2 separate regions of the Homo sapiens genome follow, and region 2 is linked to region 1. Evidence: fine-mapped expression QTL. A gene starts in region 1. The other region holds a variant in brackets. All regions are shown on one strand. Distances are between the middles of the regions. Region 1 holds the start of PDE6H (phosphodiesterase 6H). Region 2 overlaps LINC01489 (long intergenic non-protein coding RNA 1489).

Region 1 (15,437 bases):
GAATGACCTTGAAAGTCAAAGAAACCACTTCCAATCAGCTGAATTTCAAGACTCCGGCAGATCAACAGGGCAAAAGCAACCAAAATTACAGCAGATGTCATTGAGAGTGGCAGAACCTCTGGCACTTCAGATAATCCCAAACTGAGCGAGCTCATGCAATTCCAGGTGGCTGAATGCCTCCCATGGACAAATCACTGTGATATCTGCAAGAGATGGAAGAAGAGCACGTAAGCCAACCTCACCCCAAGAGAGCTTCTTCACAGAAAGACACCCTTCAGGCAGAGACACTTCACTCCTCTCTCCTGCTCATTGTCCCCTGACTGGGAAGTTCCCTAGCGTGGCCCTGTGGCCCAGGAAGGATCAGACCAATTGCTTAATTGTTGCACCAGGCATCTCTGTTGGTTTCATTCTGCTTCCTCTTTGGGGAGGTGATCCACAGCTGTTGACTGGGGGGTTCCCTGTGGGGTACAGCCCACTGATTACACAGAGTCTCCCCAAACCACAACCACTAAGGAGGAGGCAGAAGTGGAATTCTAGTCAGGCCAAGGGTTAAAATGAAAAAGAGGAGCACTTTGAATCTCCCTGGTCTAGGTATCCATAGTCTTCCCTACCAATCTAGATCGGTTTCTTCTCTAATTGTTCTTCTATTCCTTTACATTTTGAATTGCCTATATCCAATCACATATTGAGAAACGATCACAAAGCATCTTTTAATCCAGCTTCTTGTTTTAGACAATAAGATGTTATTATCCCTGAGTTACAAAGAAGCTTGCTGACACACAGAAAGATGAAATAATTAGCAAAAACCACATAGTTGTAGAGCTGAGACTAGAGCCAGGTCAAAGACCTCAGACCTTCACTCCCTATAAACCTCTTTACATTATTCCAAATACACTGTCAGAGTCAAGCATATCTTCCAGATCCCAAAGCAAATTTGCTGGTCTTGTATGCACCTTGCCAAAATACGGAAGCAGTTGATCTAAAAGAATAGAAAATTTGCTTTATAACATGGCTGGAAAATTCATTCAAGATCCCAGGATTGGTATTTGCCTGCAGAAAGAGACACTGAGGATTGCCTGGGAAGGACACTGATTACTACAAGTGCTACTGTTTATCAAAGGTGTGTTGGATGAGTTGAAAATATGTCCACACAAAAGCCTGCACATAAATATTTAGGGGCATTTTATTCATTATTGGCAAAACTTGGAAGAAACCAAGGTATCTTTCAATAGGATAAAAAACTGTGTATATCCCTACAATGGAGTATCATTCCGTGATTTTAAAAAATGAGCTATCAAGCCACATAAAAACATGGAGAAACCTTAAATGAATATGGTTAAATGAAAGAAGCTAGTCCAGAAAAGCTGTATACTGTATGAGTCTAACTATATGACATTCTGGAAAAGGCAAAACTATAGAGACAGTAAGAACATTAGTGGATGTCTGGGGTTTAGAGAGAGAGAGAAGGATGACCGGGTGGAGCATAGGGCAGCGAAACTATTCTGTATGATACTATATGTACTGCAATATGTACTATAATGGTGGGTACATGGTATTTATCAAAACCCTTAGAACTTTACAACACAAGGGATAAAAACTCTAATTCAAGCTATGGAGTTTAATTAACATACTGCATCGACATTGGCTCATCAAATATAATCACACTAATACAAGATGTTAATAATAGAGGAAACTGTGTAAAAGGGGAGAGAGATGGTAGAGAGGACATATAGGAACTCTACTTTCTGCTGAACTTTTCTGTAAGTCTTAAACTCCTCTAAGAAATAAAGTCTATTAATTTAAAAAATATGCAGTGATTGCATTCATTGTATGATACATAAAAATCTGGTAACCAATTTTTAAAATTATATTGCAGGCATTCAGTATGTAAGATCCTCCTCTGGGTGCTAGAGGATGTGTAAAAAGAGGAAATTGGTAAGGAAGTGGTTTGCCAGGTAGAGTGGAGAGATCTCCAGACCTCACCCTTATTTCCAATAGTTCACTTGGTAGCCTCAGACAAAAGACTGCCAATTCCTGTATGTCTCAGATTTCTCCCTTGAAAAATGAAGTTTGGGGAGATGAATTATGAAAATCTTTCTACCATAAAAGTCTATAATTTATCATTGTATGCCCTCAAAGGTTGTTTGACAAAACAAGAAGGTTTATGAAATTTTGGGCCTACCCTGATTTCTTTTAGGGCTTTTGTATCTGGGCACACATGTACTTATTTCGAGGGTAAATTAAATCCCCACATTTCTATGTCTTCACAGATCTTCTGCCTTGGGTATTTCTCATAACTTTCAACTGCCCCTTGAGGCCTGAAGTATATAAAAAGGCAGAACTCCAAGTGCGAAGTTCTCACTTAAATCAGTGGATGGCTTACCTGTTCCTAGCCCCTCCATTCCTGGAATGTCATCTCCAAATCTATGGAAAAGAATAAAGGAGAAATTAGCTGAGATTAGAGCAAAAGAATTTTGGAGTCACTCACATGGAGAGTTTCTTGATTCAAGGGGGAAGAAGGAGAGGTTTAAGTGTTTGTATGTGAGAAACTCCTTTAGTTTGCCCTGAACTGGAGCAAAGAAAATGTCACTCAGGCAGGTTTTGGTGTATCCCACTGGAGAGATATTTCTCTCCTGTAGGAACTTAACCTAAAACAATTAAGAGTCAGAAAGAACCATCAGTGGGACAACTTAGTCAAGTTTCACTTTTTATAATAAAAATTGAAATGAGAAAGCAATACAAAAGGCATTAAAAATGATGAATTCATCCATTTGTTTACTTATTCAAAATCATTAACTAAGCATCTATTATATACCAGGCATTTTATTAAGCACAGAGAGTTAAGAAGAAAACAGACAAATTTTCTGAGTGGTCTTAGCCTCGGAGAATAGATACAAATAAATAAATATAAGATATAATGTAAGTTATGATAGCTGAATGTACAAAATGCAAACATGAAAGTAATGATAGTTTGTTAAAGAGAGTCAGGAGTAGCTTCAAAAAGAAATTAGCATATGATCTGTGTGTTGAAAAATCAATAGGATTTTGCCAAGGAGAGGAAGAGGAAAATAAAGAACTGAGGATACAAAATTGGAAGACATAAATATAAGCTATATTTTCTGGAAATGGTCAGTGGTTCAGTGTTACAGATTAACGTAGAGGTTGTCTCAGTAAAGAGGAGTGGTCATCAAAAGCCTGCAAGGCAAAGTCAAAGTTTATTGTAAAAAGCCTCTATTTGCCATGTTAAATTCGGCCACAGACCTGGAAGTTGAGAAGGAAAGAATTCCAGGGATAAAGACACAATTCATCAAAGATGGAGTTACAGAGGAAAAGAGAGGATGGAGTGGAAATTTTTGTAAGTCTGTTTAATATTGTGAGCACCAATTTCCCAAAACAAAAGCAGTCTTGTGGGAAAAAGAAAGTAATAGAAAGTTTTTCTTTTCATTTTGGTCTTACCCTTTCACACCTTTCTTTGGAGGTTTACTCTTGAATTGGCGAGTCTGCCTCTGCTTGAACTTGGGAGGGCCTTTGCGTGGGGTGGTAGGACCCTGGTTTGAAGCTGGAGCAGGCAGAGTAGTGTTGTCACTCATTTTAACTCCCCCCGGGCGGCTGATGTTTCCCTTTCAGCCTCCTTAGACAGTGAAAGATAAAAAAAAGAAGATCTTTCAAGTCATGGGGACCATTGGTTATTAGATCTTTATTTCAGGCTGGAGAAGAAAAGTACTTCAACAAGAAAGCTCAGTATTTTGTGTTGACACAAAAGGGGAGAAGTTATCATCTTTAAAAGGGATCTTTAAGAAAACAGAGTATAAATCAATGCAGGCACTTAATGGAATGGAATGGAAACTTACCTTCTGCTACATTACTTACACAATCTATCAGTTGTGTAAACGGACAATTGATAGATTTTAAAACTCAGAAATCTAGGTAGCTATGCTGTTCCCATGGATCTGCCACTGAAAACAATTTTTAAATAAATAAATTAAATTAAAGCTTCACATTAGGTATAACAAATTAAAATTTAAAAATAAATAAATAAAATAGATTTGCCACAAGCATTCTACGTGAATTTATTATGATGCTGTACTTCTCTGTGACTACCAGTTCTGTCAGTTACGAAGAGAGGAAAATGGACTCAGTGATATCTATAGTCTTTTACAGCATCTGCAATTTCTTTAAGCTTTACATATTCTTCCATCCAGCTGTAAAATAACCTGACTCTAAATGTTTATTGAGCATTTTTTATGGCCTCTGTTTTTTTATAGTCCTTCATGTCCTTATAGTTTAAGATAGGATTATTTTGTTTAATCCTCACATGAACCAGAAACTTCTCTCTTAGTTCTGGGAGATGACAGTGTAGTTGTCTGGACAGGAGGACCTCTGAAGCAGGAATACCAACACCCATGAATATATTCAACACATCTTAATACACACGCACATACAGAAGTTAATGAAGGATAATTAAGTAATACGTTTGTGCTTCAACTCTACGTCGAGACATAAGGTTCTTCAGCCCCCACTTTTCACAAATCTTCAATGCCTTCTTCTATCCACACCACGGACCTATCCAATATGGTGTTCTCAGACTTTAATTTGGCTACAGAAATGCACATTGCCATTCTTCAAATACAAATCAAAGAAAATTATTGAAAAAGATAAATTTAAGCAATTAATGTGTCATTTTGGATGACGTTATTTTCTTTCTTCCTTTCTTTCGTAAGAGTTAACAAAACTTGCTCTTGGAAGGAAGATCCTGAAAAGCCCCAGAGAACTCCAAATTGCTTTTGCCTCTTACCCTGAGACAGTCTCCTCTATAAAAACTAGTGTGTGGGGGCTTTGTCTCCATAAGATTCCTTATTTCACCCATTGCAGATTTATGCTAATATTCTTTTTTCTTTTTTTTTAAGAGAGACAAGTTCTTGCTCCATCAGCCAGGCTGTAGTGCAGTGGTGCAATTGCAATCATAGCTCACTACAGCCTCAAACTCCTGGGCTCAAGTGACCCTCCCGCCTCAGCCTCCCGAAGTGCTAGGTTTACAGGCATGACCCATCACACCAGCCTATGCTAATACTGTTAACTGCAAACCTCCCTGACAGTCTTTGGCTCGTGCTAACAATGACTCTCTTTACTGGCCACACTGCATATTCCTGAAACCTCATATTCTATAACTTCCAGTCCATACTGTTTTCTTATTTCCTTGACAATTGGGTTGCAATTATTATCCTCGCCTCCAAGATTTTTCTCTTATTTAAATTCTGATTATTACTAAATTATTACCCTTGCCAGTACCAGGGATGGTGAGATTGGCCAGGACCCTGGACCACCTGCTCATGCTGTGATTCCTTCCTTTATCCCCTACTGGACTAGCTTCATGAGGCTGTCCTTCCAGTCTCAGAACCTACAACAGTGCATGGTGTACAGTAATCATGCCATATATATTATATTTGTCAAATGAGTTAATAAATTAATTTAGAAATTGAACAGGCCAGGCACGGTGGCTCACGCCTGTAATCCCAGCACTTTGGGAGGCCGAGGCGGGCGGATCACGAGGTCAGGAGATCAAGACCATCCTGGCTAACACGGTGAAACCCCATCTCTACTAAAAATACAAAAGATTAGCCAGGTGTGGTGGCGGGCACCTGTAGTCCCAGCTACTTGGGAGGCTGAGGCAGGAGAATGGTGTGAACCCAGGAGGTGGAGTTTGCAGTGAGCTGAGATTGTGCCACTGCACTCCAGCCTGGGCGACAGGGCAAGACCCCGTCTCCAAAAAAAAAAAACAAAAAAAAAAAACAAAAGAAATTGAACAAATACTGTAAACCTTGGTCATGAGATCCTGACCCTTTGACTTCTCCATCAGAGCACAGAGAAGTCATTAGCTTTCAGGCTTTAGGAAATGCACTGCCAGTTCCTCTGCTCACTAAATTCAGTTCCCGTTCTGTGGGCCCTCTCTACCCCCGGTAGACAGGCAAACCTTGTGTCTGTCCCAAGTGTGGTTGGGACCCTGGGAATAGCTGGTGAGCAGCCAAGATCTGCGCTGTGCTCAGAGTGGACCACCAGTAACTGACACATCCCAGCCCTGCCAGAGTCACAGAGGGCAGCTAGAGAATTGCTCTCAGATCAAGGTTTTTGAACTGCCCAGGATTTTCAAGGTAGAAGAAATCAAAAAGTTTCTTTTCTCTCATCTAAAGAATCTATTAGGGTTAGAATTGCCAGATTAAGCCAAAAAAAAAAAAATTACAAGACACCCAGTTCAATTTGAATTACAAAGAAATAATTTTTTTTAGTAAAGTATATCTCAGCTGTTTCATGGTACATATTTATACTTTAAAAAGTCATTTTTTTTCTGGAATTCAAATTGAACTGGCATCCTTCATTTTTATCTGGCAGCCCTAATAAGATCCAATTGAGTTGGATCCAGAGTTCTATAATGTAAGGGCCTAAAGTGACCCTCATTTGTCAAATTGTCCTTTGATGGTAACACGGTAGAGAGTACACTCTTTAGAATCAAACTGATATAGTTTTAAGTTCCTACTCCACAGAACTGGCTACGTGACTTAGGATAAATTTCATAATCCTCTGTGGGTCTTATTCCATCTATAAAATGAATCAAACAAGACCTTCCTTTTAGAGTTATGGGGAAATTTTAGGAAGACAATATAAGTAGAGTGGTACAAAGTGTTCAAAAAGGGCAAATATATGCTAGACCTTCTGAGAGAAAAGAAAGCCATGCAAACAAATCTGTGGTTATGACACTTGTTCACCTGGACTCTGCACCTCCTTCCTCTGGGCCAACTGCTGAAGGGCCCTTGCCATACACCAGAGGGGCAATTATCATCTGCCCTCGCTGGGTAATTCTCTGCTTCCTTCAAACACCCCGACTGTTAACTTATTTCTGGTCTTAAAATTCTGTCTTAAGAAGCTTTCCTTGAATTCCTTTGACACCCCAACAGCAACCCCGAAGAATTTAAAAATCACACGTGACATCCATATTCCCCAATGATACATCCCCTTTTTTCTTGCAAGTTTCTTTTGCATTTTTACATAATTTTGAAGTTACACCTCTAGGCTTAGAAAGTGTTCATGTCTGAGTATGATGCATTATATGAAAGAAGCCTCCTCAGAAAGAGTTACATAACAGTTGCCAGGTTAATCCCTTGATCCTAATGGTGCTCAGGATTTGCACTAGGTAACCGGAACAGTCGACTAATCCCTATGCAGTTTCTGTCATAGATTTACCCTCCAATTCTCTCTGCAAAACCTTTAGGAAGGGTAGAACACCTCTGACCTTTTCCTGCATTGGAAGCCAGTCCTGTTGTCCATAAACATCACCAAAGGCTAACCTCATGCTGACCACACCTTTCTAGAAATTCTAAGGGCATCTGGAGCTGAGTAACCTTAAATGTATTATCAGACTTGATTTTAGCTGAAAGAAGTTTCATATTTTTTCCTCCAAAAGCATTAGGCAATTTATTCTTTTGTGAGCCAGAACATTTTCCTGTATTTAAAGCAATGTTAGCCCTTCCCCTTTTGAAGATTACAAACTGTTTTTCTGCAGAAATAAGTGGATGCAGCAAAGTAATATTTCAAGGCATACTTTTTTAGGGGACTGGGATTAGGGTCAACTTAACAAAGTTAAAGATTTGTATAAAGCAAAAAATCATCTTCTGTTTCTTTATACAGCAAAGCCCAGCTCTATATAGTGACAGAGGATGATCCTCTGAAAAGCAGTTTTAGGAGGTTCCTGAGACAGCTCTCTGATGCTGCTGTTATCACCTTACACTTCCAGTTCTCTTTTTCTCAGCAAAGCTATAGACAGGTAGACCAGTCCATTGTTGGTGGACAAAGAAAGAGGCAGGAAGGAGCTGGGAAGGGAAGTACTGCTGGGGTTGAGCCCATAAATATCACCCAGGGTCCTGCTGAGGCAGAGAAAATCAATAATTTGAAAAGCAAAGCAAGACCCAAACCAAAGCCATAAAAAAAAAATTACCAAAATTCCAGCCAGCACCCTGCTTCAGAATGGAACAAACACTTGACCTCAAAGGGAGAAGGCTCAGCCACCTGCCCTGCCCTGTGGTCATTCTCATGCTCTCAGCTCCCCTTCTCCTTTTCCTCACACTCACACCATCCTGGGCCAAGTTTGCAGGCACATCCTGGGAGTAAAGAACTGTTTTCTCTGTGGTTATTTAGTGCCACAGATTCCTCCTTCTTCAGAAAACTGTTTACTATGAAGCTGCAAACAGGGAGGTCACTATTGGGCTCCTTCTAAATGAATTCAGTAATCAAGTTTTGCAGTGACCTTGTAATAATCAAGTTTCACTTATTTGCTTGTCCCATGGCATAACAAGAAGGTCTGCATGTATCTCCTTCATGTTCTTTCCCATTTTCATCCCCAGCCACAGCCCAGGCCCACAGGTCCAACATGTTTTCTTCTGCAATTTTTCTTTTGGAACCTGATCAACCCCCCAAAGCCCTTCAATTATCCTGCTCAAATTCACCAGAAGTTCAGAAGTACTCACGGAGCTGAATGTTGTTCCTATCAGCTGCCCAGCTGCCTTCTTTGCAAAAGACAAAAGGATCTTTGCATCCTGACTTATCTCTCTGTAATACCCTCATGCTGCCTAATCTCACCGTCATAAGCTCAGAACAGCAACCCAGGTGCAAAGAAGTTAGGAGAACATGGGTTGATGCTGGGACAGGCTTAGGAGTTTTCCAATAATTAGAGGCCCTTTCAAAACTGACTTGGGTTCATTCCAGTCAATAAATAGGTATTGTATTCACAAAAACACAAAAAGTGTTGATATCCAAGGGTAAATTTCAGTTTGTGATTCAATATCTTCTGTCTTTTTTTTATTCTTACCTTTAGATTTCAATACCCCCATTTCTTCCCTTTCTCTGACAAACACACACCTATGTGCGCAATCACACACACACATATACACAGTGACATAATTCTTATGGGGCTCTAGATAACTGGAGAGAAGAGAGGGAGCCACAGTGCCTCCTGCTATACAGGGACATTGAACATGCGGGCAGTGACATTGGGAAACACACAGTATGTCTCCCTAACTGGTATTGTGCGAATTTCCTCAGAGAGATGGAACCTCAGAGTCAAAACTGATATCTGACACAGAAAGGGCCCAAATGACAGCTAGGAATTGTTAACTGAGGACACTTATTTGAGAATCGATTGCTGGATCTTCCGTACCTAAATGTTTCAGGGTGTAGGGTCTAGGGTACAATCCAATTTACTGAGACTCCTTGACTCAGTCTTCCTATTTTATTGATCCACTAGTATTAATTATTAATAGATTAATACTTTTTGTATTTTAAATAGATCTCAACCCATATGGTAGTTATCAGTAAGCTCTTTTGATAAATTTATCATAGAAAGATTAAGTGACCTATTCAAGACTGCAAATAAAATTAATAGTGGAGCCAGGAACAGGGCCCAAATCTGGAAGTACCTTGCATATTCAATTGTCTTTGTGCTGCACTACATCAAAGCAGACAGAGACCAAGATGTCTGTTTGCTGGTCACTTCCATGCCTTGCCAGTGAATTTCAATGTTCTTTCCCCAGTTGTTACCTATTAGAAAATTACACTCCATAACATTACAGAGAAAGAAGGTCAATTTATCCTTTCTAGACAGGGAGAGGTTCTTAACCTGCAGCCCTAAGCAGATTACATGAGCAACTAGACAGCTTGAGAGTCATTCATATGCTCTCCACTGGTCTTTACCAAAATTCCTCTGAGTTTTGAAAGCAATGATTACCTTGCAAAGCCAGGAAAGTGTTTGGTCTCTGGATGAGTCCCTCTGCTCCCTCCTCTGTATCTCCATTACCATTCACATCTTCCTTTACTATTACATACCAGGCACGTTAATGTTCAGATGCTTATCTGTCAAACTTTTACATATTCTCCATTTTCTTGATGAAAGAATACAAATTTTAAGGACAGTGGAAAGTGCCAAAAGCTGAGTGAATGTTCTAGAATGTTGTTACTCAAAGTGCAGCAGCAGCAACACCATCTGTGCACTTGTTAAAAATGCAGGATTTCAGCCCTGCTCCATACTTACCGAATCAGAATCTGCTTTTTAACAAGGTCCAAGGTGATGTGTTTGCATATTAATGTTTGAAAAGTACTGTTCTAGACCCATATGCAAGCTTGGGTTTACCACTTATCTGCTATATGTCACCTCTCTGAGTCTCAGTTTCCTCATATGTAAAATGAATGATTTAGAGTGTTGGGGTTCTCAATTTTTTTCCATCCCAGTACACTTGAGAAAGATAATCTTGCAATTCTCAGATTCTCAATTTTTGAATATGGGGGTGGTTGTGCCATAAGTCTTCTTCCTCCAAAGGAAATCCAGGAGAGAGAAGAGGGAGAGATTAGGAGTGTGGAGAAAGTCTAGGTGTATAGTTTGAAAAATTCTCCTAAAGCCACTCTAATATGGTTCTCAGGGGTTTAGAATTAGAAAATTCTTAAATTACTCTACAGTCTTAAAAATCTATGTTCCTTCTTGTTTTGGACCAAGTAAAGTAGACACATTTCCTCTCATGCCTCTTGCTAAGTACAGCTAAAAATCCTGGATACTATATATGACAGAAATATGGAATATTTCAAAATATTTGAGAGAAGAAAAACCAAAGACAGGCTTTAGATGCGAGGAACAATATGGCAGGAAGTTTCCTGAATTTTCTTTTTGTATATCCGGATGTTGATGCAGGAAAAGACAGTAACCCAAAAACACCAAGAGGAGTGAAAAAACAAAAAACCTCCCCAAAAGCCTGTTTTTTCTAGACAAGTGACCAAGAGAGTAGCAAACTAGCAAGAACAAAAACATTTAAACAAAAACCGCCCTACTCCAGTCAAATACCATGGAAAAAAAACATGACATGACTCAGCAAAGTCTGAGTGGAGAGCCAAGACTTTCATCTTGATTCAGCTACAACGGGGTGACCTTCTTTCTCCCACCCTAGCTGAGTAGCATCAGAGAAAGCCACATTGGGATCTTGGACTTTCACCTCCAACCAGTCATAACGAGGCCACCTTCTTCTCCCTACCAGAGCGGTATCAAAGAAGCCCAAGTGGGAAATTTCATCTCCATTCAGAAATAACACAGCATGTAAAAAAGCATGAAATAAAGATTTTAGAACTGAAAAATAGAATAACCAACATAAAAAACTTAATGGATAGGCTCAAAAACAGAATGGAGAATAAAGAAGAAAGAATCAGTGAACTTGAAGACAGAAAAATAGAAATTACCCAATCTGAACAAAAGACAGAAAATAAACCCACCCCCCCACAAAAAAAATGAATAGAACCTTACAGATCTGTGAGACTAAAGGACCTAATATTTATGTCATCAGCATCTCAGAAGGAAAGGAGAAAAGAGATGAAGCTTAAAAAGTACTTGAAGAAATAATGGCTAAAAATGTTCCAAATGTAGTGCAGGACGTAATTGTGTAACATCAAGAAGGTGGGAAAACCCAGTGGGATAAACTCAAAGAAATCTACACCAAAATACACCATGGCTAAACTTCAGAAAACTAAAGACAAAGAAAAAAAGTAGAAAGCAGTGAAAGAGAAGCAACACCTTATCTGTAAGAAAAATAACTCAACTGACAGCAGATTTCCCATTAGAAACCAGGGGGACTAGAAGGATATGGCACATTTTTCATGTCCTGAGAAAAAGAACTGTCAACCCTCACTTCTATGTCATGTGAATTTATCCTTCTTCGGAATAAGGGGAAATAATGACATCCTCAAACAAAGGAAGACTAAGAGAATCTATAATCAGAAGACCTACTCTAAAAAGATGGCTAAGGAAACTTTTTGAAACAAAAAATAAATGATAAAAGAAAGAATTTTAGTCTATCTGAAAAGAAAAATGGAAGATAAGAAACTCAACCACCTTCAGCAAGGCTTGGTGGAGAACGAAACATCGTTCAAGGCACTATGAGGTTCTAAGGGTCTGGTCATCATCTTGGATCAAGGATTCACCCACTGTTCCCTGTTTGAAGTGGCTGCTCTTCCTGTCTCTGCTACTCTGACTCCTACTGACTCTCAGGGGATTGGTGTAGGCTGGGCAAGCAACAATCAATACACATCACCTCTGTTGGATGGAGTAGTTTTACCAGATCCCTTCATAGTTCATTGCCTAGTCTAGTGATGGCTGATTTCTGGTCAGTTTGTCTCTCATCTTATCAACCAGGTAATCGGGCTATATGGCTATAAGCAAAATGACCAATCTCAAAGGAATTCCTCCAAAATAACTTTGGCGTATTGAACACTCTAAGCTTTCACAGAAACAAGAAATAAAGCTAATGGGAACCTCGCTATTGATACATTCAATAACATAAATAAATCACAGAAACATTTTGCTAAATGAAAAAATCCACAGTCAAAAGGCAGTGTACTGTTTGACTTCATTTTTGACATTCTGGCAAGGCAAAACTGTAGGATTGGAGAATAGATCACTGGGTGCTTGGGACCGTGATTGAGTGGAGAAGTTGACTCCAAAGAGAAAATCCAAGAAATTTTAGGAGCGGTGATGGAATTATTTGGAATCCTGATCATAGTGGTAGATATACAACTCGATGCATTTGTCAAAACCCATATGTCCATCACAAGGAGTAAGCTCTACTGTATGCAAATTTTATGACTAAATATAATAAAATTATTTTCTTAAATCTGTATTCCATAGCTCTATAACTTCTGGTTCTTGATCCCTTCTGACAGATGGAAAAGTGTTATTAATTATATATTGGAAAGTAGAGTGCAGGTACTAAGTAATTAGAAAGTAATTAAAAATTTAGCTGTCCTTTAGCTGCTTATGCAAGCGCTAATCTCTAATCTTTCTTTAGTGCTTCTTAAAATACCAGTGAGTGGGAAGACACATTAAAGTCACATTTCCTCCACATTTGGAATCTCCTAGACTGAACTTTCCACTCTGACTAATGCATAGTGGACTCCAGAGGGGAACACACTAAACGTGAAAAAGGAATGTACAAGCCTGGCCCCTCTTTCCCTAAATACCCTACGTTTGATTCTCCAGAACAACATTAATCTTGGAAAAAAACTTATGAATTAAAAACACAATATTCTTTTCCAGAAAACAGATAAGAGGAAACACTTCCCAACTCATTTCGTGAGGCCTATTTTATCCTGACACCAAAACCACACAAAGAAATTTAAAAAGGAAATTACAGACCAGTATCTCTCATAAATTTAGATGCAAAAATTCTTAACAAAATATTATCAAATTAAATACAGCAATGTATAAAAAGAATAATACACTACAGTCAAGTGGGATTTATTCCAGCTTGCAAGGCTTATTAAATATTCAAAAATTAATCAACATAATCCATTATATTAACAAGCTAAAAAAGAAAATCATATGATCACATCAATTGATGAAAATATGATTAACAAAATCCAAAACCCATTAATGATAAAAACTCTCAGCAAACTAGGAATAGAACTAGGAATTCTACTAGAATAGGATTCTCATAAAGAAGCTATGAAAACCTACACATCAGTGAAACAGAGTAGAAAACTCAGATATAGACCTACACAAATATGCCCAATTAATTTTTGACCAAAGAGACAAAAGCAATTCAATGGGAGAGGGATGGTCTGTTCAACAAGTGGTGCTGGAAAGCATGGACACTTTGTCTATGGGTATCCATAAACCAAGAGGAGAAGGAGAAAGAGAAGGAGGAGAAGGAAGAGGAGAGAAAGAATCTTAAACCTCACATATTATGCACCCCAAAAACCTCACACCTAGTACGGAAATTAACTCAAATGAATCACAGACTAAAATATAACATGTAAAACTATGAAACTTTAATTTAAAAATATGAGAGAAAATCTCCAGGCCCTTGGACTAAGTGAAAAGTTCTTACACTTGCCAGTGAAAACACAATCCATAACAGTAAAAATGGATAAATTTGACCTCATTAAAATTAAAAATATTTGCTCTGTGAGAAACTCTGATGGGGGAATTGAAAGACAAATTACAAATTGGAAGATGGTATTTGAAAATCCTATACCCAACAAGGGATTTGTACCTCAAAAATGTAAAGAACTCTCAAAACTTGAGATTAAAAAGGCAACCAATTCAATTAGAAAATGAACAAGAAATACGTGTAAACATTTCACTGACGAGGATATGTAGATTACAAGCACACAAAAATATATTCACCATAATCATCCATTAGGGAAATGCAAATTAAAACCACAATGAGAAATCACCACACACCTATGATAATGATTAAAAAAAAACATAGTGTAACACTAAATGATTGCACAGATATAGGAGAAGCTGGATCACTTGTGCATTGTGAGTGGGAGTGTAAAATGGAACAGCCACTGTGGAAAACCATTTGGCCAGTTTTCCTAAAAATAAACATGGATTTACCATGCAACCTAGCAATTGCACTTTTGGGTGTTCATCCAGTGAAGTGAAAACTTGTGTCCACAAGTGTTTATAGCAGCTTTATTCATACTAGCCCCAAACTGGAAACTATCCAAATTTCCTATAATGAGTGAATAGTTACACAAACTGTGGTACTTTTATACCATGAAAATACTGCTCAGCCGTAAAAGGAAATGAAGTTATTGATACCTACAACAACTGGTATGAACCTCAAGGAAATTATGCTAAAGGAAAAAAGCCAATTACAAATGTACGTATGATTCCGTTTACATAATATTCTTTTTAAAATTTTTTATTTTAAGTTCAGGGGTACGTGTGCAGGTTTGTTACATAGGTAGACGGGGGTTTGTTGTACACATTATTTCATCACCCAGGTATAAAGCCTAATATCCATGAGTAATTTTTCCTGATCTTCTCCCTCTTCCCACCCTCCATTCTCCAATAGGCCTCAGTGCGTGTTGTTTCCCTCTGTGCATCCATGTGTTCTCATCACTGAGCTCCCACTTATAAGTGAGAATATACAGTATTTGGTTTTCTGTTTCTGCATTAGTTTGCTAAGGATAAGGGCCTCCAGCTCCATCTATGTCCCTGCAAAGGACATGATCTCCTTTTTTAAGGCTTTTTTATGTTCTTTGTTATGGCTTCATAGTATTCCATGGTGTATATGTACCACATTTTGTTTATCTAGTCTATCATCCATTTATTTAATATTTTTAAAATTAAAAAATTTATAGAGAGGGTGAACAATTTAGTGGTCACCAGGTGTTAGGGATGGGTGTGAGGAGGTGGGTGTGGCTACAGAAGGGTAGAACAAGTAAGCCTCACAGAGATGGCAGAGTTCTGTAACTTCATTGTGGTGGTAGTTAGAAGAAGCTTCACATGCAATAAAATTGCATAGAATTACACACACACACACAGACACACACACACACACACACACACGAGTGCATATGTAACTGGAGAAATAGGAGCAGGCTCTGTGAATTGTATCAATGTC
Region 2 (15,437 bases), 38 kb before region 1:
GTTTTCTTCTTAGAAGATGTGCAGATATTAATTAATACTTTTCCTTTCTTTAAACAGCAGATGATTTCTTTGCTTCCAGTGGTATGGCAGTGCTGGTTCATTTAAGAATCTATCCCACTCCATAGAAAGATAAAATTTCCATAAATATCCTCTGAATCACCAATTATTTCCCTGTAATGCTTGACACTAACAATCAATACCAAGAAAAAATGTCTGTGTATGTTTCACTAACATCATTTTTATTTTCTTAGAATCTGTGTTTAGTACATAAGAGAAGATTCATAATAAAGCAGCCATATATGGTTAAGTACACTAATTTCTTGCCAGTTTTCAGGATTTGAAGTATACTCTTAAAATATATCATTAATAAAACTTACTTTTTAATAGGTTTAAGGGTCACAGAAAAATTGAGCCTAAAGTTTAGAGCATTCACATGACCTATCAGCCCTCCCACCCCTTAATTTCCCCTATTATCAACATCTTGCATTTGTATAGTACACTTGTTACAGTTGATGAGCCAGTATTCATAACTTATTATTAACTAAAGCTTACAGTTTGTATTAGGGTTCACTCTTTGTTTTGTACATTCTGTGGAATTTGACACATGTAAAATTACATGTATCCAGCATTAAAGCATCATACAAAATAGTTTCACTGCCCTAAAGTTCTCCTGTGTTCTACCTATTCATCTCTCTTCTCCTCCCTCTCTCTCCCAAAACCCTGGCAACCACTGATCATTTTACTGTCTCCAAAGTTTGGCCTTGTTCAGAATATCATATAAGTGGATTCACACAGTATGTAGCTTTTTTCTGATTAGCTTTTTCCACATAACAATATGCATTTAAGTTTCCCCATGTCTTTTCATAGCTTGATATCTTGTTTCTTTTTATCACTGAATAATATTCAACTATGTGAATGTACCATAGTTTATCTACACACCTTTATAAAGATATCTGAGTTGCTTCCAAGTTTTGCCAATTATGAGTGTATTAGGCCATTCTTGCATTGCTATAGAGAAATACCTGAGACTGGGTAATTTATAAAGAAAAGAGGATTTATTGGCTCACAGTTCCTTAGGCTTTACAGCAAGCATGGTGCCAGCATCTGTTTAGCTTCTAGTGAAGCCTCAGGGAACTTTCAATCATGTAGCAGGAGAGAGAGAGAGAGAGAGTAGAGGGGAAGGTCTCAAACACTTTTAAATGACCAGGTGCTGTGGGAACTCACTCACTATTATAAAGATACCACCAAGCCATAGGGAATCCGCCCCCATGACCCAAACACCTCCCACCGGCCACCACCATTAGCATTACAATTCAACAGAGATTTGGATAGGGACAAGCATCCAACTATAGTAATGAATAAAGCTGCTATAAACACTCATATGCAGGTTTTTGTGTGGACATAAGTTTACAACCCAATTGGGTAAATAGCTGTGAGTGTGATTGATGGATTACTCTTACATATGGTAAGAGTAAGGTTAGCTTTGGGAGAAACCGCCAAACTGTCTACCAAAGTGGCTGTGCTATTTTTCAGACCCGCCAACAATGAATGAGAGTGGCTATTACTTCACATCCTCATCCAGCATTTTATGTTTAGGATTTTAGCCATTCTAAAGTGATATGTAGTGGTATCTCATCGTTATTTTAATTTGCAATTACCTAATGAGCTATGATGTTGAGCATCTTTTTATATGCTTATTTCCCATCTGTACATCTTCTTTGGTGAGATGTCTGTCCAGACCATGTGTACTTTTAAAATCAACAAAATAATAAAACCATAGTCATGAACCACCTACAAAAAAAGACTATGCTCTGAAAAGTACATTCTCTTTTATAAAAGGGCTCACAGGACAGTTTGCAGGAAAATACTCCAATCAAAGGAAATAGTACAGAAACAAAAGCAAGCCTGTGTGTTCTCACACTAAGGAGTTGAATTTTGCTTAAGAATAGGATGCAAAGGTAATATAAGTAGGAGATGGTGCTTGAAAAGAGGGACAAGGGAAAATCCAAGACACTGAAAAAGTGTGAAGAGTTTATCTTACAGGTAACCAGGAGCCACTAAAGAATTTTGCACAAAGAAAACAATAGAATCATATTTGCGTGTTAAGACTATTCTGATAGCAATGTATCAGATGCATTAAGGGAAGGCAAAGCTAGTTGTACAGAAACTAATAAGGAGTCTATTGAAATAACTTAAATGAGGCCATCAAACGAGAACTCAAGAAGGGACAGAAAGGATGAAGGAGAGGCGGGGTCATTTTTAAGAAGTGTTAAGGAAATAAAATGAACAGGCCATGTTGACTCATTCTAGATGAGGATAGGGTAGAGGAAGAAATACAGAACAACTTCCAGTTTCTGACTTGGGCAATTAATTTAATGACAATGTCCTTTTCTAATATAGTGTGTTTAAAATAGAAGAACATCAGGAAAAGAGAATTAGTTGAGTCTTAAACATGTTGCATTTGGAACATTCAAACAAAGCTATCTAGTAATTTATAAGATATAGCATTCTGGGGCCCAGAAAAAGAAGTTTGAGCTAAAGATAAGATTTGGGGCCATTAGCTCATTGATAGGATTTACTATGTGTTGAGAAAAAGGGGACCTAAGATGAAACCCTGAAAAATACCAACCAGTATTTATGGATAAGGCAGAGTAAGCAGCTTAAGTAGGAAAATAAACATCAGGGAGAGTGATATGTAAGCCAATAAAGAAGAAAGTTTTAAGTGGAGGAAATAATCAGTGTGGCTCTGTAAAACACGCTTCTAGTGAATTTAGTAACTAGAAGGTTGCTGAAAGCCTCAGCAGGGGAATTTACAATAGACTGAGGTGTGAAATGCATTCATTGCTGAATCCCCACCTAGCATAATTATTGGCCCCTTCCTACATGTTCCGTAAATATCTATTGGATTATTGCATGATAAATCTTTTTCTAGGTCACGTCACAGAAAATGAGCAGAGGAAGTGCTGTTCTTTCTCCTCAATGTGATTCTTAGTGATTCTCATTCTCCGATCTGTGAGGTTGCGTGGAAGACTAACAGTCTACTAATTACAATCACACTCACTCAGCTATACCCTCTGTGTTCCATGATTCTACTCAGTTCGTCTTGCCAGGGTTTTTAAACAAAGTTCTTTTATTTAGCAAATAGTATACACTTTAAAATACTTTAAAAATTTTTAATTGTGTTGAAAATCACAAACATAAAATTTACCATCTTAACCATTTGTACGTGCACCGCTGATTGGCATTAAGTTTATTCCTATTATTGTACAATAGATATCCAGAACGTTTTCATCTTGCAAAACTCAAACTCTATACCCATTGAGCAGCAGCTCATTTGACCCTTCACCCAGCCCCTGGCAACCACCATTCTACTTTATGTTTCTATGAGTTTGATACCTCATTTAAGTGGGTTTATACAGTGTTTGTCTTTTTGTGACTAGCTTATTTCATTTAGCATAATGTCCTCAAGATTCATCCATGTTGTAGCCTATAAAATGAACCTACCTGTTTTTAAAACATGGTTTCAGTGTTTTTCTCAAAAAGTTCTAATAATCCAACAACACATATAAATCATATAATTTCCAGGTAAGTAGGAGTTGTGAGGGCTTACCCATCTATTTTGCAAGTTTCCTTAACATGGCAGAAATCATTCTTCTCATTAGAAATTATTTTGTGGTAAGGAACCCACTAACTTTGAGAGTGGATAGCCCATTTTGCAATAAGACCCATCATCAGATGCTACCACAGCTCTACTCTCTGAACTGTTCTGGGGATGCATTGATTGAGATCCTAGCATTTGACAGAAACAAAGCAAATATATAACGTCTGTTTAGAGCCCTTATTTTCCTCAAAATCTTCTGATGTTCTCCAGGTCACCTTTGTCTTTCTGGCAACTAGCTATTTTATTCCTTGTATCATTTAACCATGGTTACTTATTAATCATCCCCCATGAGATGCCTGAAGTAACAATGTTTTGCAAATAGGTTCAGCTCTCTGGTTTTAGGGAATGAAGAGAGGGAGAACTGTAAAAGGGGAGTGTTAGACTTCATCCCCAAAGGCCAGGAACAATGTCAAAAAACTCTGGTATCTCTGCAGTTGATAGTTCCCTCTCACTTGACTAGATTTTAAAATAATTAAGTTCTCAATTTCCAACTTAGTACAATTGCAATCTCCAACAGCATTTCAGAAATAGGAAACCTGAAGCATATCTCTGCACACTTTTATTTGTAGTTTAGTAAACAGAAAGTCTGCAAATGAGAAAGAATAATGCCTAACTTCTTAAATAAGCAGAAGATGGGAATAATCCAGTCATTGTGCTTATACCTGCACTTCTCAGTTCTGCCGCAAGTATTCCAGTAAAAACTGGGTTGATCTGAGCTGAAGTGTTTCTTCCTTTTGGCCAGGTGCAAAAGTCTGGAGTCTACTTCAGAGGACGAATGTGTTTAGTCATTTTTATAAGAGTTGAAAAAAATAAGCACTAAATCTTTCTTTCAAACTTGAACTGATCCTCAAAACAGTTTTAGGAATTTCCAAAGGATCTTTTTGCTTTAGTTTCCAAACTGGTATTTTCACTTGTTTCCATCTTGTTTGCTAGATAACCTGAGTCTTAAATTTAAAAGAAAAATGCTTTGAGGATGATTTTATCAGCTCTCCATATGGAATATGAGAAAAAAAATCCATAATTATTCTGTATCCAGTTTACCTAAAATATTTTTCTAAGTTTTTGGTAGGCAGGTATTCTCCTTTCCACCGTAGAACTCAAGCAGTACAGACTATACCATGGCCTATTGCTAAGATTTACTGAGATCTCCACTTTTGGAAACCCCACAAGTGTAAATTGAGATTAATAAAAATTCCTTGGTATGAAAAATGCTAACAGTTGAATTTCACTCTCCCATCTACTCAGATATTACTTTATACTCCTGGATACCCCTCATAACTGCTCCTGATGCCCAGGCATCCAGGGTTAGGTGAGGAAGCATGACCTGGGTTTTCAACAAACTGCATGAGGCCACTCTGGCCACGAGCAGACTCTCTATCCTCAGGCCCCCAGTAATTTTGAGTTACTTCCTCTCAGCCATCTGACTTATATGTGAGGCACAACTGCACAAAAATAGCAATTCTTGACGCTTTTATAAACACATCTACAGAGAATGTTCCCATTATTGCCTTAATATAGCAATCTGAGATAATCAGGTCTGGAAACATAGCCACGTTTTATAGGTAAGGAAACCAAGCATAAGTGATCTAAAAACTAACAGGAGAGTGAAATTGAAACCAGAACCTTGGTTTTCTGACTGCCCGTTATGGATTCCCCCTCTGGTTTTCTAGGAAAGCCCTATAGTGAAGGCCATATTGCTCTCAATATTTCTTCTTCTTTTCAGTTGCCTTTCTTTATGCCCCTCATCCCTGTCTGTCTTTTCCTCATCCAATCTCCTTGTGACTCTCTGAAAGTCCCTGCCCTGTGACAGTCAGTTCAGACCTACCCTTTCTAGCCATTTTCTGATGCTCTCTGAGCTGCAGATTTTCCTGAGCTTCAGACACCTCTCGTTCTCTCAATGCCTTGCTAGACTGCTGCAAGTTCAATTTATAAGGAGCTGATGGGAGATAATAGTTTACTGCAGTGGTTCTCAATCAGGGCAGTTTTTCTCCCTGGGGGACATTTGGCAGTGTCTGGAGACATTTTATGCTACTGGCACATATTGGGTGGAAGCCAGAGATGCTGGCTGCCATCCTGCAATGCACAGGACAGCCCCCCAAATACTAAGTAGAAATACTTCGTGCCTAATGTCGATAGTGCCTCCAATGTCAAGGTTGAGAAACCTTGGCTTAGAACAATAATCCATCCTACAATGTTTATTACCAGCATTTCCCGAAAGGAGTAACCAATGCCAAGACTTTCTATCATCATGGTGGTTGAAGAAGATAGTAGGTTTCAAACTGGCATGTACGAAAGTGTGGGGTGGGCCCATTAGTCAGGTCACAGAGACAATAGCCTACTTTGAGTGTGTTAACTGATCATTCTTGACACAGTAAAGTCACGTAAACTGCTTTGTGGCAATATAACTAAGACTTGCTGTGAGAGGAAGGCAGAAAAGAGAACGTGAGCACAGAGTTCTTCTCAGAATCACTGAAGGTTTGGTATGAGTATGCCCCACAATGGGACTCCTGCTTCGAGACGTGAGCTCGGAGCAAATGTGTCCCAAGCAATAACATAAGATCATTATGTGTGGAAAACAGACTTAAGAATAAAATACACTAAATATTTTTGATGTAGTATCCCATGGTGGGTAACACATGTCAGAGATGTGAGTGCAAATGTGAGACGCCTGATCTGCTCTATCTAGTTCAATTGGAGTCGTGGACCTTCTAATTCCATTCCTTCTGTCAAAAACATTTTTACATTCATTCTGGGATGTGTGTCATGTAAATTTTTAACCAGTAGAGCAAATTTTCATTTTATCTCAAGGACAAAGAACAATTTGCTCTCAGCTACAAACTTCCTTCCTTCCATCTGTAACATCATCAATTCTGTTCTTGGTTCCTCCTCTTCAATCATGTGGGACCCACTCAAAGAACAAAGAAGTCCTTTGACCCTTTGTCCTCCCAACCACTTCCATGTTCATGACATATATTTGTGATATTTTGAGTGAGTTATAATCACTTAATTCTAACATGTTTTTTGAAAGAACATTTTCCTTAGACTTCTTACTTTCCAACTCCAATTCTCTCAACCTAAAGAAATCCTTTCTGTCCCACTTAGCTGAATCCAAGCACCCCTCTTCATTTACTTTCTGGTCCCTTGTTTTTCACTGGACACTTTTCTACACTCCACTTGGGCACTTTCCAGCTGCTGAGGCACTATATTTTTATCTTTTCTCTCTTACTGCTTTTTTATGTTAACAAGAACATTACGTGTACTTACATCACTTCTTTTCCTTCCTTTTAGTACTGCAGGACCAGAACTATATGAAGTTCTGAGGACATAATAGCAGTTACAATCTTGTTCATCTACTGAGATAAATGGGCCTGAGCTCTCCTAGCATTTCTTCTTTCCATAATCAATTGTGATTTTTTCCATAATCAATTGTGGTAAAGCTCTCTCTTTCTGTCTCTCTGTCTCTCTGTCTCTCGCTCTCTCTCTCTCTCTCTCTCTGTGTGTGTGTGTGTGTGTGTGTGTGTGTGTGTGTGTCTGTGTGTGTCTGTGTTTATGACTATCAGAGGAAGAGAGACAGCTGGAAATTATTTTCAAGTATTTAAAGGTGATAGAAGTTCTTTTTCTTAGATAACATGCTATCCGGACCAGTAGTTATATATGAAACATATAACTAGTGTAGTATATAAAACATAAAACAATTTCCCCTTGGTCTTTCATTCAAAGTCCAAA[A/G]CTTAAAGATCACGCTGAGAAAAGAGGGGTTCGGTGCTATATTAGCTGTAACTTAGTCTTGGGGTCTCTTCCAATGGTTGGCCTTGTTTTCCTTTGGCAAGGAAAAATTTATTGTTATGCTTGGAAAATATTTTGCTGTTAGCAGAAGAATAGTCGATATTTCAAAGAAAGATAAAGGGAGTAGAGAGAACTATGTGACAGGACATTTTTCTTGATTGTTTTCAAAATGGAAGGTTGAGGGAGGGGTATTCAAGAAAAATAAAGTACAATTTTGACCTCCACAAAGCAGAAGCTACATCTATTTTACCTTCCCACAGATCCCAGTAAAATATTCTAGACCTGGTGAGTGTGAAATAAGTATTGTGACCTGTTTTGTCCTGAAAGTCTAATTAACATAATCAAATAAGAACTTCATGTGAAAGTATGCAAGTTGCCTTTGTAATAAATTACTATTTAGAGATTAGATGAGTCTACCTAGTAGAAATGTACACAGTGGCTTTAAACCTTTCAGAGTACTGCCCCTAGTGAACATTTGTTAAAAAGACAGCATGGCCTGAGCACTCTAAAGCACAAGCCAATGTCAGGGCCAGAGCCTGTGGGCTAGGCTAGTGGTGATGGTGGTGTTCTTCATGTGTGGCCAAGAACAGGAGAGGCAAGAGATCTACCAAGGAGCCTATAACAGAAGACCAGAGACCTGAACTACAGAAACCAAAACTGGGTGTGGAATAACTATTTAGCAGAAGTTTCTCTGATGCTGTACTAGATTTTTGTGGACTTAGCCAGGCCCAGACCTAAGCTATGGCAAATTCCAATGATGACCCAGGTCCTCTAGTTTGGAAGCCAGGGACTAAGATAAGTGACTGAGAGGCACTGAGCAAGAAGCTGACCTAACATCTGGTGGTAAAAAACCAACCAACCAACCTGACGGTCAGATCCTACCCAGCTGGGTTGGATGGCTACTTAGAAATTTTCTACCTTCCACACATCATCTTATTCTTCTAAGTAGCAATTTCTCATTTCCTTTGAACTTTTATGATTATCCTGCCTACAAATCAAAATTGTTGTGGGAAAAGAGAGGGCCAGAGTGTGGGATCTGTGCCATGTGAGGGCAAAGCTAGGCCTGGTCCAGGAACTGGCAGGCTCAACACCACACTTTGCCACAGCTAGGATGAAGGTCTGCTGAATCACAGCTTACAGGGGATGAGGAGTCTGGGGGGTTTGCCACCTCAGTGAATACTGACATCTTGTTTCAGCATCCAAAGGTAGTCCACCATCCGCCACCTTGAATTCAGAGTATGGGATCAAATTTCTTCAAAAATATGTAAAGATAGAAATGTATTTTAGATGCCATCTCTTTTTGCAGCCCTCTTACTCTTTTTTTGCAGCTGTATTATTATCGTTATTAATGTAGATGTTTTTTGAATATCGACTGTGTCTTTCTTTAATCCTAAAAATAACCTTTGATGTAGATTTAATTACCCTGAAACTGCTGCTGAGAGAGCATGAGTAACAATCCTATGATTAGTAAACTAGTACATGGCAGCACTATTAGATGAGTCTACCTAGTAGACTCATTATTATTTAAGTATATATTGAACTTAGTTTTGTCTGACGCTATAGACCCAAGTCTTTTCCCGATGCTCAATTTGCTTTCTGTTCTTCTTTTTGGCAGTTTTTTTTTCAAGACATGCTTAATACTGTCTGCTCTTTAGGAAGATGATTAGTGAAGTTGATGAATTCACCTGACCAATGGTAATACTCCATCTTGTATCAAGTAAAATGGGCATCTGTCAGCATGGCTTTTTAGAGATAGAGTCAGACCTAAGGAAGTCACTGGACTTTTCCAATCAGCTATAAAGTAAGGCTAAAACTATGGCAAAATAGAAGATGTAGTAATTCTAGCCACATGGAACCATACAACTTCTCTTAAAATAAACCAACATTTGTTCAAATGATCAAGCTTTCCCTCCTGCCTTCTCTTATTAACACATTGTACTGGGCTGAAGAGTATCTCCCCAAATTCCTGTTCTCCAGGAACCTCTGAATGTGATCTTTTTTGGCAGCTGGGTCTTTGCAGAGGTAATTAGTTAAGATGAGGTTTTGCTGGATTAAAATGGGCCCTAAATCCAATGACTAGTGTTTTTATAAGAGAAGGGAGAGGGAGATGCAGACACAGAGACATACGGGAGTTAGAGGGGAGAAAGCCCTGTGATGACAGAGACAAAGATTGGAGTGATGCAGTTACAAGCTAAGAAATGCAAACAATTGCCAAGAGCCACTAGAAGCTGAAATAGGCAAGGAAGTATTCTTCCCCTAGAGCCATCAGAGGAGCACAGCCCTGCTGACACCTTGACTTTGGACTTCCACCTTCCTGGACTGTGAGAGAATAAATATATTTCTGTTGTCGAAACCACCCAGTTTTGGGTACTTCGTTATGGCATTTCTAGGAAACTAACACACCCATTATTCCTGGTGCATTTATGTAGTTATCTCCTCAAACACTCTAACAGACATATAATTTAAGAAAATAAGACAGAAAATAGTGAACTTTCAGTGGCTGCTAAAGGCATAGGAGAAGGCATTTCAAGCGGTTAGAGGACAAAAGTAGTAATCCAGGGACTGAGGGAAAAACAGACAAGGTGAAGAGAAAAGGTCACAAGTATTGAAGAGACCATCCACTTTTGTCTAAGGGCTCAGGTAATAAGCCTCGCTGATTTCCTAAAAAGCATTTGGAAAATTAACATACTTGGAGGAGTTTTTAAAAATTAGCTTAATATTTCTCTTAAATTACATGTTAGATATTTTATATAAATAAAACCAATTTTCATAATAAAAACTTTAATGAACTTTGATTCTGATATATTAATACAAAACATACACTTTAGATAAATGAATGAATTTTTAAAAATAAACTTCAAAAAGTGATATTCATATGAAAGCCTTCCTAAAGTCAACAATAAATGTACATTTATATCAGCTCCAGTCAGAAAATTATTTTAAAATGGTATTTGTACAAACAATTCTTTGCTTAAAGTTTCATAAAACTCTTAGTGAATACTTTCAAGGCTCTTTAAAAAAAACAAAGTTTGACTTGAAGTTGATTACTTTCTCAGAACAAGCAAGTAGGAGTCTTACATGAAGTGCTGAAATCACTCCTAGTCCCATTCATTATTAAGGAAAAAACAAAAAAATACTTCACAATTTAATAAACAGAGCCTTGTGCTGGGAGTCAGGAGACTTCAACTGAATTATAGCCGAGGCTGACTTTGATTTACTCTACGACTTTAAGTCAAATAGTTCGCCTCCCACTGTCTCGATTTTCAACTTATTTATAGCATGTAACATTTGCCAAGTTATATAATATTGCTCACCTCAATTTCTTCATCTATTAAATGAAAATAATGATGACATCGTCTTGCAGAGTTACTATGAGGGTTAGGTGAGTTAGTATAGCCAACGCATTGAGAGTAACGCCTGGTATAGAGTAGCTAGTATTGGTACTTGCAGTATTACATATCTTCTCTCACCTTCTAAATCTTGTGCCTCTTAAGGGCAGGGATCACATCTTATTTATCTTGGTATCTCTCAAAATACGTAGTAAAGTATCTTGTATACAGTAGCTGCTCAATAAATATTTACAGACCCAAATTTGCTCTTAAAGGACAAAGGCTGTATATTATCTAGTTGTTTGGGATAACGGTCATTACATTTTTTTAAAAAACCCAGTGATGTGGGAAAATAAGAGAAAAGATCTTTTGGGAAAATATCAGTGAGCAAACCATTCCCATGAGAAAGTTTCCATCGGGTTGGAAACAACTTTTAAAAATCTTCCATAGTAGAAGCAGAGACTTGGTCTCCCCGGGCACTAGTCTCTGCCTTCTTAGAACAGCCTGGAATATAACTACTGTTTAGAAGAGCTGAGCCTCTCCTGTGATCCCATTCTCTTCCTTCTTTTTTCGCCTTCCCAGCTCTATACCTCACCCCAACCTCTTTCCCATTCCACTGGAGCCCTCTTTGTCCCAGGAGAGCTAATAGTAAATTCTTTATTGCTGTAGCTTTATTGCCTTTAGCTCTGGAAACTGTGTGCTTCCAGGCTGTAATTACGTTCCATTTATAAATATTATCTCTAAGAGAATAGCTAATAGCTTTTTTGTAACGCTATCTGTAATTCTGTTGCTGCTAAATTAATGTGTCAGCCAGAATCTTGAAGTAAACAAAGTTTATAAATTGATTCCTGTAGAATGATGTAAGATCTTACTAAACCCTAATACTGCTCAGATGAGAACAGCTCAGTTAATCAGCTAATAAGCCAGCAGTGAAATTAAAAATATAATTGAACATTCAGAGCAGTCTCCAAGAACCATGACAAATTAAAAATAAAACCCAACATGCGAATATCAGTTGCTTTGTGAAAAAGTCAGGTTACCCAGCCTCCAGAGGTTCATGTAGTTAGGTTCAAGCTAGCTTTTCCCATAAAACAGTTCAGATAGAAACAGTCTTTAACCTGCACATCAAAGTTTCAGGAAATGAAATGAAGAACATAAAGCATAGTTAGCTCTTTGACTTCCACATAGAGTCAGTAGACAAAAATGTTTCTTGAAAAGAGGGGAATGTCCACTCTGATGTCTTAGTTGTAATGACAGTGTCATGATGAGGATAGGATGGTGGCTGGATTCTATCTTCATACAAAGGAGTTCTGACAAAATTATGTGGAATCGCCTTCCCAAAACGAACAAGCACAGTAGCAAATATTAGCAAATATCTGCATAGTTTAACTGAAGAGATTCACTTTTTCTCAAGAGGCAGGTAGTCTTAGGTAATGATAAACTGTACGAGCTCTGAGGACAGAACTTCTTGGGTTTATATTAAAAAAAAAACTATTTCATTTGGACAATTTGTGCCAGTTTTTTTATTTATAAAATGGATGGAAGTTATAAAGATTAAGCAAGTTAATACAATTAAAGTGACTAAAACAGGACGTAGGACATCATAAGAGATCAATAAATATTTGCTATTATTATGTTACTACACTTATTATTTAGAATTATTTTATTTAGAATAATTATTAGGATTGTTTAGTTTTGAATTCTTACATCATTTAGAATTATGAGTCAGCTCTCCTCTAATTTTTGCTACCTTCTTTTATTCTTTTTCCCTTTGGTCAGGGGTTAAAGGGTTCACAGACTTTTTCTTTTTATTTTTACTTCAACTTTAATTTTAAGTTCAGGGGTACCTGTGCAGGCTGTACAGGTTTGTTACATAGGTGAATGTGTGCCCTGGTGGTTTGCTGCATAGATCAACCCATCACCTAGGTTTTAAGCGCAGAATCCATTAGCTATTATTCCTGATGCTCTTCCTCCTCCCATGCCCCAACAGGCCCCAGTGTGTCTTGTTCCCCCTGATGCATCCATATGTTCTCATCATTCAGCTCCCACTTATAAGTGAGAACATGCAGTGGTTGGTTTTCTGTTCTTGCATGAGTTTCCTGAGGATAATGGCTTCCAAGTCCATCCATGTCCCTGCAAAAGACATGATTTCATTCCTTTTTACGGCTGCACAGTATTCTACGGTGTATATCCACACCATTTTCTTTATCCAGTCTATCACTGATAAGCATTTAGGCTGATTCCGTGTCTTTGCTATTGTGAATAGTGCTGTTCTTGCTACCTTTATATCTAGCTCAGGAATTGCCAAGCTGTGGTCACTGACACTATTGTCTTGAAGAGATATTCTGACAACCTTGTCTCTATGACCCCAGAAAGACAATTCCATTAGTCCTATGTGGGAAATATTTTTTTTTAACTGAGGACCAAGCAAACATAAAGATGATTAAAATCTGAAAAGACAGATAATGCATAACATTCTGAAGTGACTTGCTACTACTTCTGAAGAAACTGAGGTCCCTGGGGATTCTTTGTAGTCCCTGGGGCCCCTCTATTCCTGGAGGCACAAGGAACACAGGCAGTGTGCCCCCTCCTCTGAGCCGTGACTTCCCTTTTCATCTGTGGAGATTCCTATTTCTCAAGGCTGGCTTCAAAGTGGATTGCAGTTCTCCCCAGCCTTTTCCTCTTTATGCTATCTCCCCACACTAACTAACAATTTTTCATTCAACAATTTTACTATTAATCACTGTAGAAGAAAAGATTGGTGCTAAAGAATAAAACTGGGAAGTTACAGAGTTCCCAAAGTTGTAGTGGAAATGTGAGATTTTGAAGCCAAATGCTTTTCTCTGATGGAACAAAGACCCCAGCATCCTCCAGTTTCTCTCTGACAGTCTTAAAGGTAAAATTTAATAAATATCATATATTACTAAACCTCCTCCAAATCCATTTCTTTTTGAAGATCTCTCAAAATAGGGATAAGAGTATAATTAAGGTAGATTAATTAGGCACTCAAGTGAGTGCCTTGCATGTCAGAGGAATTCCAAACACATATAATCCCTCATTTTGAGCTATTAATGTCTCCCATGTTCTTCTACTTCTGTACATGAAAGCCACTTGATGAAGCCCATTTATTTGAGGACTCAATTCCTACCCTTAGTCAAGCAGGTCTCAAATTGTAGTGTACACAACAACCACCTGGAAGGCTTATGAAAACACAGAGTCCTAGTTCCTAGTGTCAGAGTTTCTGATTCAGTAGGTCTTGGATAGGGCTCAAGAATTTGCATTCTCACCCAGCTTCCAGGTGATTCTGATTCTGCTGGCAGCACACTAAAGAAAACCATTGACTTATGGTCCTTCTGTCCTGGTCCTCCCTTTTGGTCAAATGGTGACAGCCTTTCTGCAAAATGAACCCAGTATGAAACACATGTAAATAAAGAGAGAAGGAGGGACACACAAAGAGAGACCAAAACAAGGTTGTTTGGCTCTGGGATACATTAGGATCTGAAGCCGGCTCTATATTCCATCTTGCAAAGTTACAACTATACATTTTGCTAAGCTAGTGTGAGTTGGGTTTATGCCATTTGCAACAAAATAAGACAGCCAATAAAATCCCAGTAAAATGTAAAATTATAAAAGTATCCACTCAAGAGCATTTCTCTTTGCTCCTATACATCATCAGAGAAGTTATTTCTCTACCTCAGTTTATCACCTTAATCAACAACAAATATCCATTACCAACTTGACAACCACCATTTGCTTGTTTAGAGAGATTTGTTGGTAGTTGAAGCAGACAGAAATTCCTCCAGGTAGTTGTAGGCACAGAAGGCAAAGTTGAGCATATGTTTGGCAAGCCCAGAATCATGCATCCATTTCCTTAACAAATATTTGTTAAACACCAACGTGCTACTCACTGTGCCAAGTGCTGGAATGAAACAGTGAAAAGCCCCTGTCTAGTTGGAGTGACAGAAATAAGCACTTACAAAAGAGTTAGATCAGATATGTGAGGTCATCAAGATGGTACCACCGGCCCTGGAGTGAACAAACAGGGGACACCAGGGCACCAGGCATGTGCTCTGCAAGCCATCACTCTGAGACAAGTTTTGAGTGATGGTGAGAAAACAGTGGATGTGAGGGGCAGACAGATGTTAGTGTTTAGGGGACAGGCTTTGGGCCTTGAATAGACTTTGATTGGAGGCACGGCTCTACTACCCGTTAGTCTACTTAATTACATTGAACAGTTAACTCCCTAAGCTTCAATTTCTCTTATTTATAAATTAGACTCTTTATGTTAGCTATTTTAGGTAACACTGTGATAAGAATTGCACATTGTTCACAAACATATAAATATTCTATCCATGTTTGCCAAATAAAGTACCCCCAAATTACATAATTTTAGAAATACAGTAAAGAAAGCCCTGTCTTCCACTGGAAAGCTACATACAGAGGAAATGTGAAACCTAAAGTTTCAAAGACTGAAGTGACATGAAAATTAAATAAAGGAGGAACTTTTGAATGATCAATAGCTTCAGAGCTGAACCTCTAAAGGACTTCTTTAAGAATCAATACTGATACCATAACATTGATCCAAAAAGATAAGAAACGGCATCCTATCTTTTTATGAAAATGGAAAAGTCATATAAATTTAAAAGAAGCTGTGAGAACCGTGG

Evidence for each region. PIP is the estimated chance that this variant, and not a neighbour inherited with it, causes the effect. A credible set is the group of variants that fine-mapping cannot tell apart.
Region 2: its variant is the best candidate, but not a certain one, in a credible set for the expression of PDE6H in whole blood (INTERVAL, PIP 0.73).

What each region holds. Positions count from the first base shown.
Region 1 is chr12:14,966,166-14,981,602 of GRCh38, reverse strand. PDE6H (phosphodiesterase 6H) reads right to left here and starts at 8,561. Exons shown (of 4, transcript NM_006205.3): 1 at 8,517-8,561; 2 at 3,457-3,631; 3 at 2,384-2,424; 4 at 1-203. The coding sequence starts at 3,590. The coding sequence ends at 127. RefSeq lists an enhancer at 216-315.
Region 2 is chr12:15,003,830-15,019,266 of GRCh38, reverse strand. LINC01489 (long intergenic non-protein coding RNA 1489) reads right to left here. Exons shown (of 4, transcript NR_120466.1): 3 at 14,061-14,167; 4 at 12,584-12,906. Among named protein-coding and RNA genes, the nearest start is that of LINC01489, 9.7 kb to the right of the region's middle. The variant A/G (reference allele first, on the strand shown) is at 7,388.